Linked DNA regions of Homo sapiens. The protein of the gene in region 1 purifies or fractionates together with the protein of each later gene. This does not show direct contact. Each region holds a gene or a part of one and is shown in the gene's direction. Other genes may lie near its edges.

Region 1 (7,704 bases):
CAGGAGTTCGAGACCAGCCTGGGCAATGTGGTGAAACCCCGTCTCTACTAAAAATACAAACAAACAAACAAAAAAATTAGCCAGGCGTGGCAGCGTGTGCCTGTAGTCCCAGATACTTGGGAGGCTGAGGCAGGAGAATTGCTTGAACCCAGGAGGCAGAGGTTGCAGTGAGCCAAGATTGTGCCACTGCACTCCAGCCTAGGCAGCAGAGCAAGACTCTGTCTCAAAAAAAGAATAAATAAATAAAAAATAAAATAAAAATAGTTTTGCTTTTCCCCCCCTCATTATACAAGTTATGCTAGATGGAGTAATGTATATTTACTGTAAAAAATTTGTAATGTTCACCTTTGTCTCTTTAGGATAAATTGAAATAAGTAGAATTAGTGGATCAAAGGTATGCCCATTGAGTAGCCTCCATGTATGCTCTGTATTAGTCAGTTTTCACACTGCTATGAAGAATACCTGAGACTGCATAATTTATAAAGGAAAGAGGTTTAATTGACTCACATTTCCGCATGGCTGGGGAGGCCTCAGGAAACTTACAATCATGGCAGAAGACAAAGGGGAAGCAAGACACGTTTTAAATGGCGGCAGGCAAGCAAGAGCACAGGGGAAACTGTCTGTTATAAACAATCAGATCTCCACGAGGTCAGGAGATCCAGACCATCCTGGCTAACACAGTGAAATCCTGTTTCTACTAAAAATACAAAAAATTAGCCGAGAATGGTAGCGGGCACCTGTAGTCCCAGCTACTTGGGAGGCTTGGGCAGGAGAATGGCGTGAACCCGGGAGGCGGGGCTTGCAGTGAGCTGAGATCGCGCCACTGCACTCCAGCCTGGGCAACAGAGCGAGACTCTGTTAAAAAAAAAAAACAAAATCAGATCTCGTGGGAACTCACTCACTATTATGAGAACAGCATGAGGGAACAGCCCTTATGATCCAATCACCTCCCACCAGATCCCTCCCTTGACAAGTGGGAATTACAATTTGAAATGAGATTTGGGTGGGGACAAAGAGCCAAACCATATCACACTCCCTGCTAAGATGGCAATGCTCTCTTGCCAATGTTATGTATTTAAACCCTGTTTTAATATTTACCAGGTTGACTGACAAAAATTAATGGTTCATTTAATTAGCATTTCTTTTTCTTTTATTTATTATTATTATTAATATTACTTTGAGACAGGGTCTGGCTCTTTTGCCCAAGGTGGAGTGTAGTGGCACAATCTTGGCTCACTGCAACCTCTGCCTCCCAGGCTCAAGCCATCCTCCCATCCTCCCACCTCAGTCTCCTGAGTAGCTGGGACTACAGATGCATACCACCACGCCTAGCTAATTTTTGTTTTGTTTGTTTGTTTGTTTGTTTGTTTGAGACAGAGTCTCACTCTGTCACCCAGGCTGGAGTGCAACCTCTGCCTACCAGGTTCAAGCACTTCTCCTGCCTCAGCCTCCTGTAGCTGGGATTACAGACACAAACTACTACACCTGGCTAATTTTTTGTATTTTTATTAGAGACAGGGTTTCACTATGTTGGCCAGGCTGGTCTCAAACTCCCGACCTCAAGTGATCTGCCCACCTTGGCCTCCCAAAGTGCTGGGATTACAGGCGTGAGCCACCGCCCCCAGCCTAATTTTTGTATTTTTTGTAGAGATGGGGGGGTTTCACCATGTTGCCCAGGCTGGTCTCGAACTCCTGAGCTCAAGTGATCTACCTACCTCGGCCTCCCAAATTGTTGGGATTACAGGCATGAGCCACTGTGCCTGGCCATTTCTTTGGTTTTGAGTGAGGCTGAATATTTTTACATCTTTTCTCTAAAAATGCCAATTGAACAGCTGGGCACAGTGGCTCACGCCTGTAATCCCAGCACTTTGGGAGGCCAAGGCAGGCAGATCACAAGGTCAGGAGTTTGAGACCAACCTGGCCAACATAGTGAAACCCCCTCTCTACTAAAAATACAGAAATTAGCCGGGTATGATGGCACATGCCTGTGGTCCCAGCTACTTGAGAGGCTGAGCCGGGAGAATCGCTTGAACCCGGGAGGCGGAGGTTGCAGTGAGCCGAGACCACACCATTGCCCTCCAGACTGGGTGACAGAGTGAGACTCCATATCAAAACAAAAACAAAAACAAAAACAAAAAAAACCTGCCAATCGAGCTATGCTTTCCCTTTCTCGAAGGAGAGAGAAGTAATCCTTTTCCATCGTATTTGCTTATAAGACCTTGGGACAAGGAAGCCTTGAGAGATCCGGTGAGGGACTTCGGCTGGCCATCCTATATAGGGTGACTGAACTGGTTATAGCCTTGAAATGAAAGTTCCAATGCACATAAAATCCTCCAGGGTGCATTTTTACTTTGGAAGTGGGTGTGTGTGGTAACTTAGAAAAACTCAGTGGTTTCAGGCTTGGTGGAATGATGTAATTTTTCTCAGGAAAGTGGCGGGGGCCGCCATCTGTGTGTCTCAGCAGTCAGCCCAGGGCCTGACACATTGTGGGCACCCATAACACCTGCAGATTGAATAATTAAACACTGCTGCCTCTGTCCGGAAGGGTAACCCGTTGTGACCCTATATGACCTGTCTGCTGGGGGGAGGGAAGAAGTGTGCTTTTGCATTCTCTTGCACTCATTTATTAGAAACCCTTAGACTTTTTTTTAGTTTGGGTCTGAAACAGTCCTCTTAATATGCAGGAAGAGAGATATTGCCAGTCCTGACTTTGAACTTCTGGAAAGGGCTAAGGGTGAGTGGAACTATAAATATACAAGGGCAAGTCTGACATGAGCAGTTTTATTGTGACCACGTCCTTGGGTCCAGGAGGCTGGCCAGGCTGCCCAGGTAAGCCAGGGTGTCTTCCTTCTGGAAAACCACACTCTCAGGGCTCCAAGTGGCTTTTTCTGGTTGTCTCCCATTTTTCTCTGTCTCCAGGGAAGGACTCCATCTGACTTACCATAGTTACAAGAGTTCTGTGAAAATAATTTATAAGGAAGCAGGTCATCACTGGAATGCCACAATGTTAGGACCAGAAGGGACGGAGGGATTATCTGGTGTCGGGGTTCGCTGTCTCTCTCAACCTACCAGCCGCCAGCCGTGCTGAGTTAATTGTCAGTAGCAGGCCAATATAATGGTCAGTTCAAAGCTTAATGGTTTGTGGGAAACCACTAAAGACTTTAGGGCAGGAGGCCGGGCGCGGTGGCTCACGCCTGTAATCCCAGCACTTTGGGAGGCGGAGGCGGGCGGATCACGAGGTCAGGAGATCGAGACCATCCCGGCTAAAACGGTGAAACCCCGTCTCTACTAAAAATACAAAAAATTAGCCGGGCGTAGTGGCGGGCGCCTGTAGTCCCAGCTACTTGGGAGGCTGAGGCAGGGGAATGGCGTGAACCCGGGAGGCGGAGCTTGCAGTGAGCCGAGATCCCGCCACTGCACTCCAGCCTGGGCGACAGAGCGAGACTCCGTCTCAAAAAAAAAAAAAAAAAAAAAAAAAAAAGACTTTAGGGCAGGAATTTGAGGGTTTTTTTGGTTTGTTTTTGTTTCTGTTTTTGTTTTTTTTGAGACAGACTCTCACTCTGTCTCCCAGGCTGGCGTGCAGTGGCATGATCTCACCTCAGTGCAACTTCCACCTCCCTGGTTCAAATGATTCTCATGCCTCAGCCTCCCAGGTAGCTGGGACTACAGGCGCGCACCACCACTCCCAGCTAATTTTTGTATTTTTAGTAGAGACGGTTTCGTGATGTTGGCCAGGCTGGTCTCAAACTCCTGACCTCAGGAGATCCCCCCGCCTCGGCCTCCCAAAGTGCTGGGATTACAGGCAGGAGCCACCGCACTCGGCCTTGGAATTTGAGTTTTAGAAGTGTCATTCTGCCAGGCGTGATGGCTCACGTCTGTAATCCCAGCACTTTGGGGAGGCTGAGGTGGGAGGATTGCTTGAGCCCGGCAGTTTGAGACCAGCCTGGGCAACATAGAAAGACCTTGTCTCTACCCACCAACCACGAGAAAAGGTGGGAGGGGCGTCATTCTGGCTGCTCTGCTCTGTGGTTAGGACCAAGTCAAAGGTGGAGGAGGGAAAACCGTAAAATCAAGTGAGAGGCTTGGAATAGGGTGGCTGCGTCGCCGGATGGATGAGTGGAGAGAGATTTAGGAGATAGGATTTACAGCATTAGATAACTGGAAAGAGAGGGTGAGGGAGAGGAAGGAGTCAAGATGCCTCCCAGGGTTTTGGCTTGGGTCTCTGGGCAGATGGTGGGGCCATTACTGGGTTAGGAGAGAAGAGAAAAAGCAAGTTTGGCAGAAAGCTGAGTTTGGGGTAAGTTATGTTTGAGGCGCCTGGGGGCCTCCAGAGGCAGGTGTCCAGGTGGCTGGACATCAGGGTGTGGCGCTCAAGAGAGGGTTCTGGAGTGGTCGACACCGAAGTGGAGAGGAAGCAGTGAGGTGTTCTAACAACGGTGAGGAATTGGGGAGGCCGCTGGGTTCGGGGTATGCAGAGTGTAGCGGCCACGTAGCTGGCGATCTCAGGCACGTGACTGCCTGGTCCTGTGGCCCCGCGCTCGAACACTTTCAGCACCCAGGCAGGGGGTAAGGGGCGGTGTTGCCCCCTCCCGGGTCCCGCCTTTCTGCCCGCCTCTCATCCTCTTTAGCCATTGGGCAATACCTCTGTCCATCAAGGGCCCGCCTCCGCAATTGAGCCAACCAGGGCTGGCGGGAGGGCGCTTCCTTCTGGAGCTGGGTCCTGACTAGGGACCGCCTGGGTGAGGTGAGGACCTGGTGGCCGCAGTTGTGGCACTGTGCGCAGGCGCTGAACTGACCGGACGGAGCGGGCGGCTGTGGCCTCGCCAGCTGGTGAGAAGCGGGCGAGGGTCCGAGGTAGGGAAGGTAACGAGCGGGGGATGTGGACACCTCTTTCCCCGCCAGGCCTCGCCGGCGCCTGACCCTCCCGGCCTGCGGCACCGGCTCAGGTGACTGGGCGGAGGGAGAGCTGAGGTGAGGGGGCGGGTCCGCGGCGGAGAGGGACCAGCTGGGCCTACGACCACGGTCACCCCACTCACGTGCGCGCGCCACGTGGGCCCGCGGGCTCGCCGAGGACCCTTGGCTGCCTACCGGGGCACCCCACTAGCTGCTCTGGCCTATCGAGCACCCCTTGGAGCTCTGTGTCCCGACTGCACGCCCCTGTTTTACAGGCTGGCAAGCCGGGGCTCAGAGGCACCAAGCGGGTCGCCCGGGGGCACCCAGCTGGGGTACGGCCGTGCCGGGGTTCTAGGGAGATCGGTTTTGGTGGGCTCCGGAGTCCATGCACTTAGCGATGAGGCTGAAGTCAGAGATTTGAACTTGGGACCTGTCTGTTTTCTTTAAGGATGCAAGAGGGTTTGCGTCCTGGCTGCGGTGTATCACCCTGCACCGCTGCCTGCCTTGACTGCAGGGCCGGAGCGTCAGGCGCCCTCTGCTCCCGGACAGACCGCCCCCGCACCGACTTCTGCGGGGTGGGCTGGCAGGGGGTGGGGGAGTGAAGGGACGGTCCTCAGTCCTGGGAACTCTTGAGGTCCCGACAAATGATCTCGAGATCCCGAGGGCAGGATTCATACATGAAAAGCTCATTATAATGGGTCAAGGTTTTGTTCTGTTTTTTTTTTTTTAATTTAATTTAATTTAATTTAATTTAATTTAATTTATTATATTCCAAGGAAAAGTACCACCAGGGCTAGTGAAGGGACTAGGAAACTCGTCACCCCCTTGAGGAGGCAGATGTGAAGCTTTTGGAAATCAGTTTGGCAATGAGTCTACACCCTTGGACCTACTGACTCCTTGTTTGGGAAATAACTAGGATAAAACCTAAGTAGAGAAAAGGTTACTGCATAAAGCAGTACAGTTTGGTGGGGTTTTGTTGTTGTTGTTGTTTTTAAAGAGACAGATCTGGCTCTGTCGCCCAGGCTGGAGTGCAGTGGTGTGATCATAGCTCACTGCAGTCTTGAAATCTTGGGCTCAAGCGATCCTCCCACCTCAGCCTCTTGAGTAGCTGGGACTACAGGCACTTACCACCATGCCCAGCTAATCTAAAAATTTTTGTAGAGATGGGGCACTTGCTGTATCACCCAGGGTGGTCTTAAACTCCCTAGCCTCAAGTGATCCTCTTGCCTTGGCCTCCCAAAATGCTGAGATTATAGGCATGAGCCACTGTGCCCAGTCCAGTTTGGTATTTTATATTAATAAATAGCAAGTAGTAGAAACAACCTCTAAATTTCCAGCCGTAAAGAATAGTTAAGTAAGTTGTGATTATTTATGTCAAAATGTAGCCATCAGATGTGAAAAAATACTCTTATCAGGAAAGCCAGATTCAAAGTTGGGGTTACAACTCTACAAAAATACGTACAGAATGACTGTGCGCAGTAGCTCCCACCTGTAATCTCAGCACTTTGGGAGGCCAAGGGCGGAAGATCGCTTGAGCCTAGGAGTTTGAGACCAGCCTGGAAAACACGGGGAGACCCTGTCTATTAGCTGGGCCTGGCGGCACATGCCTGTAGTCCCAGCTATGTAGGAGGCTGAGGCAGGAGGATCCCTTGAGGCCAGAAGGGCAAGGCTGCAGTGAGCCACGATCTTACCATTGCACTCTAGCCTGGGGACAGAGCCAGGCTCCATCTCAAAAACAAAACAAAACAAAAAAAAACCAAACAAAAAATACCCAGAATGACTTAGAGGGGTATATACCTAATGATGAAAATAATAGCTACTTTTTTTTTTTTAGCAGAAGCGTCATATTTTATTAAATTCTCACAAAACCTTCTAAGACTAATATTCCCATTCCACCAATAGATAACTGGAGTGTTACCTCATCAGCAGTGTGTCTGATGCTACACAAGATAGTATCACAGCTAGTGTGCTATTGGGCCTCTGAAAATGTCATATTTAGCCAGTATTTGAGGACTTAGTGTGTGCCGGGTACAGGGCCAGGCACTGGAAAGCTGTTGGTGAGTAAGGCAGCCATAGTTGCTTGAGTCATGGAGTTTATAGACTAGTGGGGAAATATACATGTATATAAAATTTAGTTTTTGAGACAGGGTCTTGCTCTGTTGCCCAGGCTGGAGTGCAGTGGCAGGAGCACAGCTCATTGCAGTCTTGACCTCCAGGGCTTAAGCAATCCTCTCACCTCAGCCTTACAAGTGAATGGGGCTATAGGTGTGCGCCACCATGCCCAACTAATTTGTAAAAAAATTTTTTGTAGAAACCAGGTCTCCTTATGTTGCCCAGGCTGGTCTTGGAACTCCTAGGCTCAAGTGATCCTCCCGCCTCAGCCTTTGGAGTGGTTACAGGTATGAGCCACTATGCCCGAAGCAGATTATTTATTTATTTATTTATTTTTGAGACGGAGTTTCGCTCTCGCCCAGGCTGGAGTGCAGTGGTGCAATCTTGGCTCACTGCAAACTCTGCCTCCTGGGTTCACGCCATTCTCCTGCCTCAGCCTCCTGAGTAGCTGGGACTACAGGCGCCCATCACTGCACCCAGCTAAATTTTTGTATTTTTAGTAGAGACGGGGTTTCACTGTGTTAGCCAGGATGGTCTCGATCTCCTGAACTCGTGATCAGCCCACCTCGGCCTCCCAAAGTGCTGGGATTACAGGCGTGAGCCACCGCGTCAGGCCTGTTTTTGTTTTCTTTGAGACAGGGTCTCACTCCCTCTCTAGTGAGGCCCAGGCTAGACTGCAGTGGCACAATCACTGCTTTC
Region 2 (7,023 bases), on another chromosome or scaffold:
AGTTTTTTCTTAGGTTGAAAGCACATTTTAGGGAAGAGAAACAAGTAGAGAAAACAGTGATTGTAGGCTTTAGACCTCTGTCATTGGTAATTTGTTAGGATCACTTCCATTTAAAAATCACCTAATGAGCACTAGTGTCAACCTTTCCACATTTCATTTACACACCGCTTTTCTTATTCCTGTTATAAGGAGGAAGAACTTTTTGTGATCCCATCCATTCCAGCTAGTATGCCTCACAAAGAAAAGTATCTAAGCTGACTCTTTAATATTTGTAAGTTTAGGATATTACAGTGGCCCTCTCTTCTCATTCTTCTCTTTTCTTGTTAGAATTGACTCCATAAGTATGACTTTCCCAACACTTCTTGGCTCTGTTTACTTTCTATACTACATATGGTTATAGTATGTTCCAGTGAGTGATTACGGTTTTAAAAGTAAACATGCCGGGTGTGGTGGCTCTTGCCTGTAATCCCAGCACTTTGGGAGGCCAAGGAGGGCAGATCACAAGGTCAAGAGATAGAGACCATCCTGGCCAACATGGTGAAACCCTGTCTCTACTAAAAATACAAAAATTAACCGGGCATGGTGGTGCACCCCTGTAATCCCAGCTATTCGGGAGGCTGAGGCAGGAGAGTTGCTTGAACCCAGGAGGCTGGGGTTGCAGTGAGCCGAGATCGCGCCACTGCACTCCAGCCTGGGTGACAGAGCGGGACCCCATCTTTTTCCCTGAATATAAAAGAAATACAGGTTGGGAGCACTGGCTCATGCCAGTAATCCCAGCTATTTGGGAGGCTGAGGTGGGAGGACTGCTTAAGTCTAAGAGTTTGAGACCAGCCTGGGCAACATTAGCTATACCCTGTCTCTACTAAAAAAAAATAAAATAAAATAAATAAGCTGGGTGTGGTGGCATGAACTTGCAGTCCTAGCTACTCAGAAGGCTAAGCAGGGAGGATCGCTTGAGCCCAGGTGTTAGAAGTTACAGTGAGCTATGATCATGCCACTGTACTCCATCTTGGGTGATACAGTGAGACCCTGTCTTCAAAAAAAATTTTGTTTTAATAAATAATGAATTTGTTAAGTTTTATGTAGAGTTTTAGGTCTGTATTGGTTATCTTTTTGCTGTACATTTTTTAAACCGTTTTATTGAGATATAACTCACATACTGTACAGTTAAATTCAGTGGTTTTTAGTATATTCAGATTCATGCAATCATCACTATGATCAATTTTGGGACATTTTTATCACCCCAAAAAAGAAATCCTGTACCTATTGGCAGTCACTTCCCTTTCACACCTAAACTCCTGAGGTCTAATCAACTACTAATTTTTGTCTGTGTAGATTTGCCTATTCTGGATATTTCGTATAAATGGAATTCAACATATTGTCATTTGTGGCTGACTTCTTTCTCTTAGATAATGTTTTAAATATTTATCCATGTTGGGCCAGGCGCGGTGGCTCACACCTGTAATTCCAGCACTTTGGGAGGCCAAGGCAGGTAGATCACAAGGTCAGGAGATCGAGACCATCCTGGCTAACACGGTGAAACTCCGTCTCTACTAAAAAATACAAAAAATTAGCCGGGCGTGGTGGCAGGCGCCTGTGGTCCCAGCTACTTGGGAGGCTGAGGCAGGAGAATGGCATGAACCCGGGAGGCGGAGCTTGCAGTGAGTCAAGATCGCGCCACTGCACTCCAGCCTGGGCAACAGAGCGAGACTCTGTCTCAAAAAAAAAATAATAAAAATAAAATATTTATCCATGTTGTACCATGTACAGGTTGAGTATTGTTACGCTTGCCACCAGAAGTGTTTTGGATTTTGGATTTTTTTGGATTTTAAAATATTTGCAGTTATACCAGTTGAGCATCCTTAATCCAAAATCCAAATGTTCCAATGAGCACTTCTTTGAGCATCGTGTGGGCATGCAAAGTTTCAGATTTTGGATCATTTTGGATTTCACGTTTTCAAATTAGGGATGCTCAACCTGTGTCAGTAATTCTTTCTTTTTTATTGCCAAATGACATTCCTTTGTATAGATAAACCATATATTATTTATCTGTTCATCAGTTGGTGAATATTTGGGTTGTTTCTACTTTTTGGGTATTATGAATCATGTTGCTGTGAACATTTTTTACAAATTTTTGTGGGGACATATGCTTTTGTTTCTCTTGGGTATATACATACCTAGAAGTGAAATTGGTGGGTCATATGTTAACTATTTTGAAGAACTGCCAGATTTTTCCAAAGCAGTTGCATTGTTTTACATTCCCACCAGTAGTGCATGAGAGTTCCAATTTCTCCAGATCCTTGCCAACACTTGTTTTTGCCTGTGTTTTGATTACAGCCATTCTTTTGGGTGTTATGCCTTCTCATTGTGGTTTTGATTTGCATTTCCCTCATGAGTCATGTTGGAACATCTTTTTATGAGCTTATTGGCCATTTTTATGTCTTCTTTGCCTATTTTCAATTAGTCTTTTGACCTATTAAATTTCTATATTTTATTTGTAAATATTCTCCTTAATTTGTAGAGCTCTTAATATAATTTGTTTAAAATTTTTCTCAATATATTCCCTAAAACTCCCACTTAAACACTATTGTTTTTATGGTTATGAGCACTAGTTGTTTTATGATTAACTTACATGTTGCTTATCCTTGTTTGAAAGCAAAACCAAAAGTAGTTAAAGGATACAATTTTAATTGGGTATAGAATAATAGAGACTGTAATAAAAGGCTAACTAACCTCTAGGGATTCTTTCATTTTTCATTTCATTTTTATTTTATTGTACTTGCTTTCTATCCCAAGGCTTAAATTTAGTATTTAATAGAGGGAAAGCTCCTGGAAACATTGTCATAACATGTTTACTTTAGAGGAATGAGTTGACAGTTTCTTTACTTCCCTTAAGAGGGACTTGTAGTAAGATAGTGAATGCTTATTACTCTCTTATGCCACATGGGTGTGACAGCTACAAGTGTCTGAAATAAAGACAAAAGGCCAACCAAACTGGAAATCTTAATTTTTCATGTTGAAGAAACAGTTGCAGTTAGCATATGTTAGAACTAATATGAAAAGCTATAGATTTTATTCTTTGGGGAAATGTGTGAGCTACTTCTGAAAGACAGTCATAAATTTTTCTTGCTTTTTATATTAAGTATGTATGTTTAATCAGCTTAAAGTGCCTGTAATAGAGCCCAAATCTTTTAGGTGATTGTGATTTTTTCATATAATGGTAGTAAAGTTTTTGGTTTTGAGACGGAGTCTCACTCTGTCCTCCAGGCTGGAGTACAGTGGCGTGATCTAGGCTCACTGCAACCTCCACCTCCTGAGGTCAAGCGATTCTTTTGCCTCAGCCTCCCAAGTAGCTGGGATTACAGGCGTGCACCACCACTCCTGGCTAATTTTTGTATTTTTAGTAGAGATGGGGTTTCACCATGTTGGCCATGGTGGTCTCGAACTCCTGGCCTCAAGTGATCTGCCCACCTTGGCCTCCCAAAGTGCTGGGATTATAGGCGTGAGCCACTGTGCCCAGGAGTAGTAAAGATTTGAAAAATGGGGAGCATATGCATGCCTTTCTTGGACCAGACTTTTAAGTCTTGTTATTTATAATAATATGTAATAAAGAGTGAAATACTTGCTTGTTTTACTAATAATATTTTTATGTAAAGTGGCTAGTTTTTTTTTTGTTGTTTGTTTGTTTTTTGAGACAGGATCTCACTCTGTCACCCAGGCTGAAGTGCAGTGGCGTGATCATGCCTCACTGAAGCCTCAACCTCCGGGGCTCAGGTGATCCTCCCACCTCAGCCTCCTGAGTAGCTGGGACTACAGGCATGCACCACCATGCCCAGCTAATCTTCTTTTATTTTTAGAAGAGACAGGGTTTTGCCATATTGCCCAAGCTAGACTCGAACCTCTGAACTCAAATGAGCCACCCGCCTTGGCCTCCCAAGTGCTGGGATTACAGGCATGAGCCAAAGAGCCTGGCCGATTTTTTTTTTTTTTCTTAACCAGAAGCTGATACTAGCGTCTGAATTTTTGTTGAAGAAATCTATGAACAAATTTGCTCTCGTTACAGTTACTAGACTGCATAATTTTTTTTTAGAAAGCATCCATGCTAGCCTGTAGTCCCAGCTACTTGGGAGGCTGAGGCAGGAGAATGGCGTGAACCTGGGAGGCGGAGCTTTCAGTGAGCCGAGATCGCGCCACTGCACTCCAGCCTGGGTGACAGAGCAAGACTCCGTCTCAAAAAAAAAAAAAAAAAAAAAAAAGCATCCCTTCTAAAGTAACCTTTCATTCTTGTATTAAAATTTTGCAACAGTGAAGTTTTACAGGAATGGGAACATAAAATATAAGGAAAAAAACTGGTTTTTAAATAAAATCTTTCAATATGTTGTAAAAAAAAGTCCGAAGCACTTAACTTTCTAGGATCATGGAGGTGAATTATTTTGGTCTTATTGCTTAATTTTTCTTTCATAAAGAGTAAATTGAATCCTAGCACCTTTGGGAGGCCGAGGTGGGCAGATCACCTGATGTCAGGAGTTTGAGACAAGCCTGGTCAACATAGTGAAACCTTGTCTCTACTAAAAATACAAAAATTAGCCGCGTGTGGTGGTGCACACCTGTAACCCCAGCTACTCAGGAGGCTGAGGCAGGAGAATCACTTGAACCTGGGAGGCAGAGGTTGCAGTGAGCCGAGATCGTACCACTGCACTCCAGCCTGGGCGACAGCACGAGACTCAAAAAAAAAAAAAAAAAAAAGCGCTTAGGATCATTTGACTACCTTCATTCTTGTTTTGGTTTGCTGACAATGGGTGAAAAATGAGACATTTACCTTTGAATGAGGCCAAAACGAGGTCTTTTAGCTCAAAGAATAAGATTCTAGTATGCTTGTTGAGGACTCTTTTTCTTTTTTTAAAACTTGTCCTCTTTATAATTACTGAGCTTAAAGGATGTGTATGTATATATAAAATTTTGATTGAGTCACTCTGAAGGGAGAGAATACTTAAAGCCTGTAGGATTGTCTCCTAAGAAATGATGCTGCTGCTGCTGTTTTATTTTTATTTTTATTTTTTTTTCCCTAACCACTTGGCCACCAGGGAAGAAATGCTGTTGTTTTGAAAGTAATTTAGTCTCTTTCCTACTTGCATAATGTAAACACAACAATGTTAGTAATATTTGGAAAATAGTTTAGTTTCACTTTAAGCATGAAAACTCTTTCACCGTTTTTGGTTATAAGCTTCTATCCAGTCCCTTAACTTATGAACAAAATTTTTACATTTTTAGTAAAAGTTCTCTGAAAACAGAAATTGACTAGAAAGTTAATATACATCACCTCATGCATATTTAAAATCTCTCTGTATGTTGTTTTTAGAAGGAGTGGTCTGAAGAATATACAAGTAATAGCTAAAATGAAGACCTTATGTTGACTTCTTATGATGTTACATATCACTTGAACATACTTTTTTTTTTTTTTTAAATAAAAATGTAACTGGAATTAGGTAGTAATCCATAGGTAAACATTGGAGGTTTTTTTTAATTTCAGCTTTTACTTTAGATTTAAGGAATACATGTGCAGGTTTGTTACATGAGTATATTGCACCTGGGTAGTGAGCATAGTACCCAATAGGTAGTTTTTCAACTCACTTCCCCTTCCTCTTTCCCTCCATCTGTGGGTTTTGTTCACGGTTCAGTTAACTGCATTCTAGCAGAAGTGAGTCTTTTTTTTTTTTTGTCCTTTGAGACAGACTCTTGCTCTGTCGCCCAGGCTGGATCTTGGCTCACTACAACCTCTGCCTCCTGGGTTTAAGCGATTTCTCCTGCCTCAGCCTCTTGAGTAACTGTGATTACAGGCATGCGCCACCACATCCAGCTAATTTTTATATTTTTAGTAGAGAAGAGACTTCACCATGTTGGCCAGGCTGGTCTTGAACTCCTGACCTCAGGTGATCTGCTTGGCCTGGCCTCCCAAAGTGCTGGGAAGCTTTTCAGATTTTTCGGTGTGGATACCCAGGTTGAGCTGGAAATGGAGAAAATAACAGATTTTGGTGGAGCATGGAGGGGAGATCATGCATTCAGTTATTGAGTTGGTACCTATGAGATCTAAGTAGAATCATGCTTTAAAATTTGTTTTTAGTGGGGAGAGCAAACGGAAAAGGCCTTATAGAGAGAGAGAAGTTGATCAGAGAAAGAAGGCATAATTGGTACAACAGTCTCTTGTGGACTGACTTATTCAATAAGAGACTGGTATATAAACTTGCTTATCAATCATTAAGAAATGTGTATTGGCTGTTCATGTTCACCGTACATATTGGCTGTTCATATTCACCGTACACTCTTCCTATGGACAAACTGACGTGAGAATTGATATCACAATGAGAATAACATTTGAGCAAAGCATTAGGAAGGACATTAGGTGAGCTCAATGGTTCATATCTTATATAATGATTTCTTGTAATTATTTTCTGGTACTGCCTAGAGAAGATTGCTTCAAGAGTCATTTTGCAGGGAAGGAGGGAGGCTTGTTTCATTTTAATTTTACTTACACTTAAAAGTAGGATTTAAACATACTTGGCATTTTAATAGATTAAATTTCTAACGTACGGTGGTGAGTGTTGTAAACAAAATATTTTAATATGCTTTTGTCATTATTTTTGTACCTAAAAGAAAGTAGGGTGAATTTGTTCAAATTAGTTTGTTGGTGTTTAAAACCATTTCTTCTCTTTTCTTCTTTTAAAGAAATGGCTGCAAGCAACTGACCTCACTAGAGAAGTGTACCAGCATTTAGCCCACTATGTACCCAAAATCTACTGCAGGGGTCCCAACCCTTTTCCACAGAAAGAAGACATGCTGGCACAGCATGTTTTGTTGGGACCAATGGAATGGTACCTTTGTGGTGAAGATCCTGCATTTGGATTTCCAAAACTTGAGCAAGCAAACAAACCTTCTCATCTTTGTGGTCGTGTTTTTAAAGTAGGAGAGCCTACATATTCTTGCAGGTAAAATATTTTAATTTTCTTTCTAGGAGGCTCTTGTTTT

The links. The genes of interacting proteins can lie anywhere in the genome.
Region 2: the proteins of PDP2 (region 1) and UBR2 purify together in Homo sapiens (affinity purification with mass spectrometry; 2 studies listed by BioGRID and IntAct, with this or other methods). This does not show direct contact.

The regions. Positions count from the first base shown.
Region 1 is NC_000016.10:66,875,811-66,883,514, forward strand, and holds the start of PDP2 ([Pyruvate dehydrogenase [acetyl-transferring]]-phosphatase 2, mitochondrial precursor), read left to right. Parts: upstream 1-4,704; 5' UTR 4,705-4,830; exon of another isoform or gene 4,831-4,971; intron 4,972-7,204; exon of another isoform or gene 7,205-7,292; intron 7,293-7,704. UniProt on the Homo sapiens protein: Mitochondrial enzyme that catalyzes the dephosphorylation and concomitant reactivation of the alpha subunit of the E1 component of the pyruvate dehydrogenase complex (PDC), thereby stimulating the conversion of pyruvate into acetyl-CoA.
Region 2 is NC_000006.12:42,567,011-42,574,033, forward strand, and holds part of UBR2 (E3 ubiquitin-protein ligase UBR2), read left to right. Parts: intron 1-6,723; coding exon 6,724-6,983; intron 6,984-7,023. UniProt on the Homo sapiens protein: E3 ubiquitin-protein ligase which is a component of the N-end rule pathway.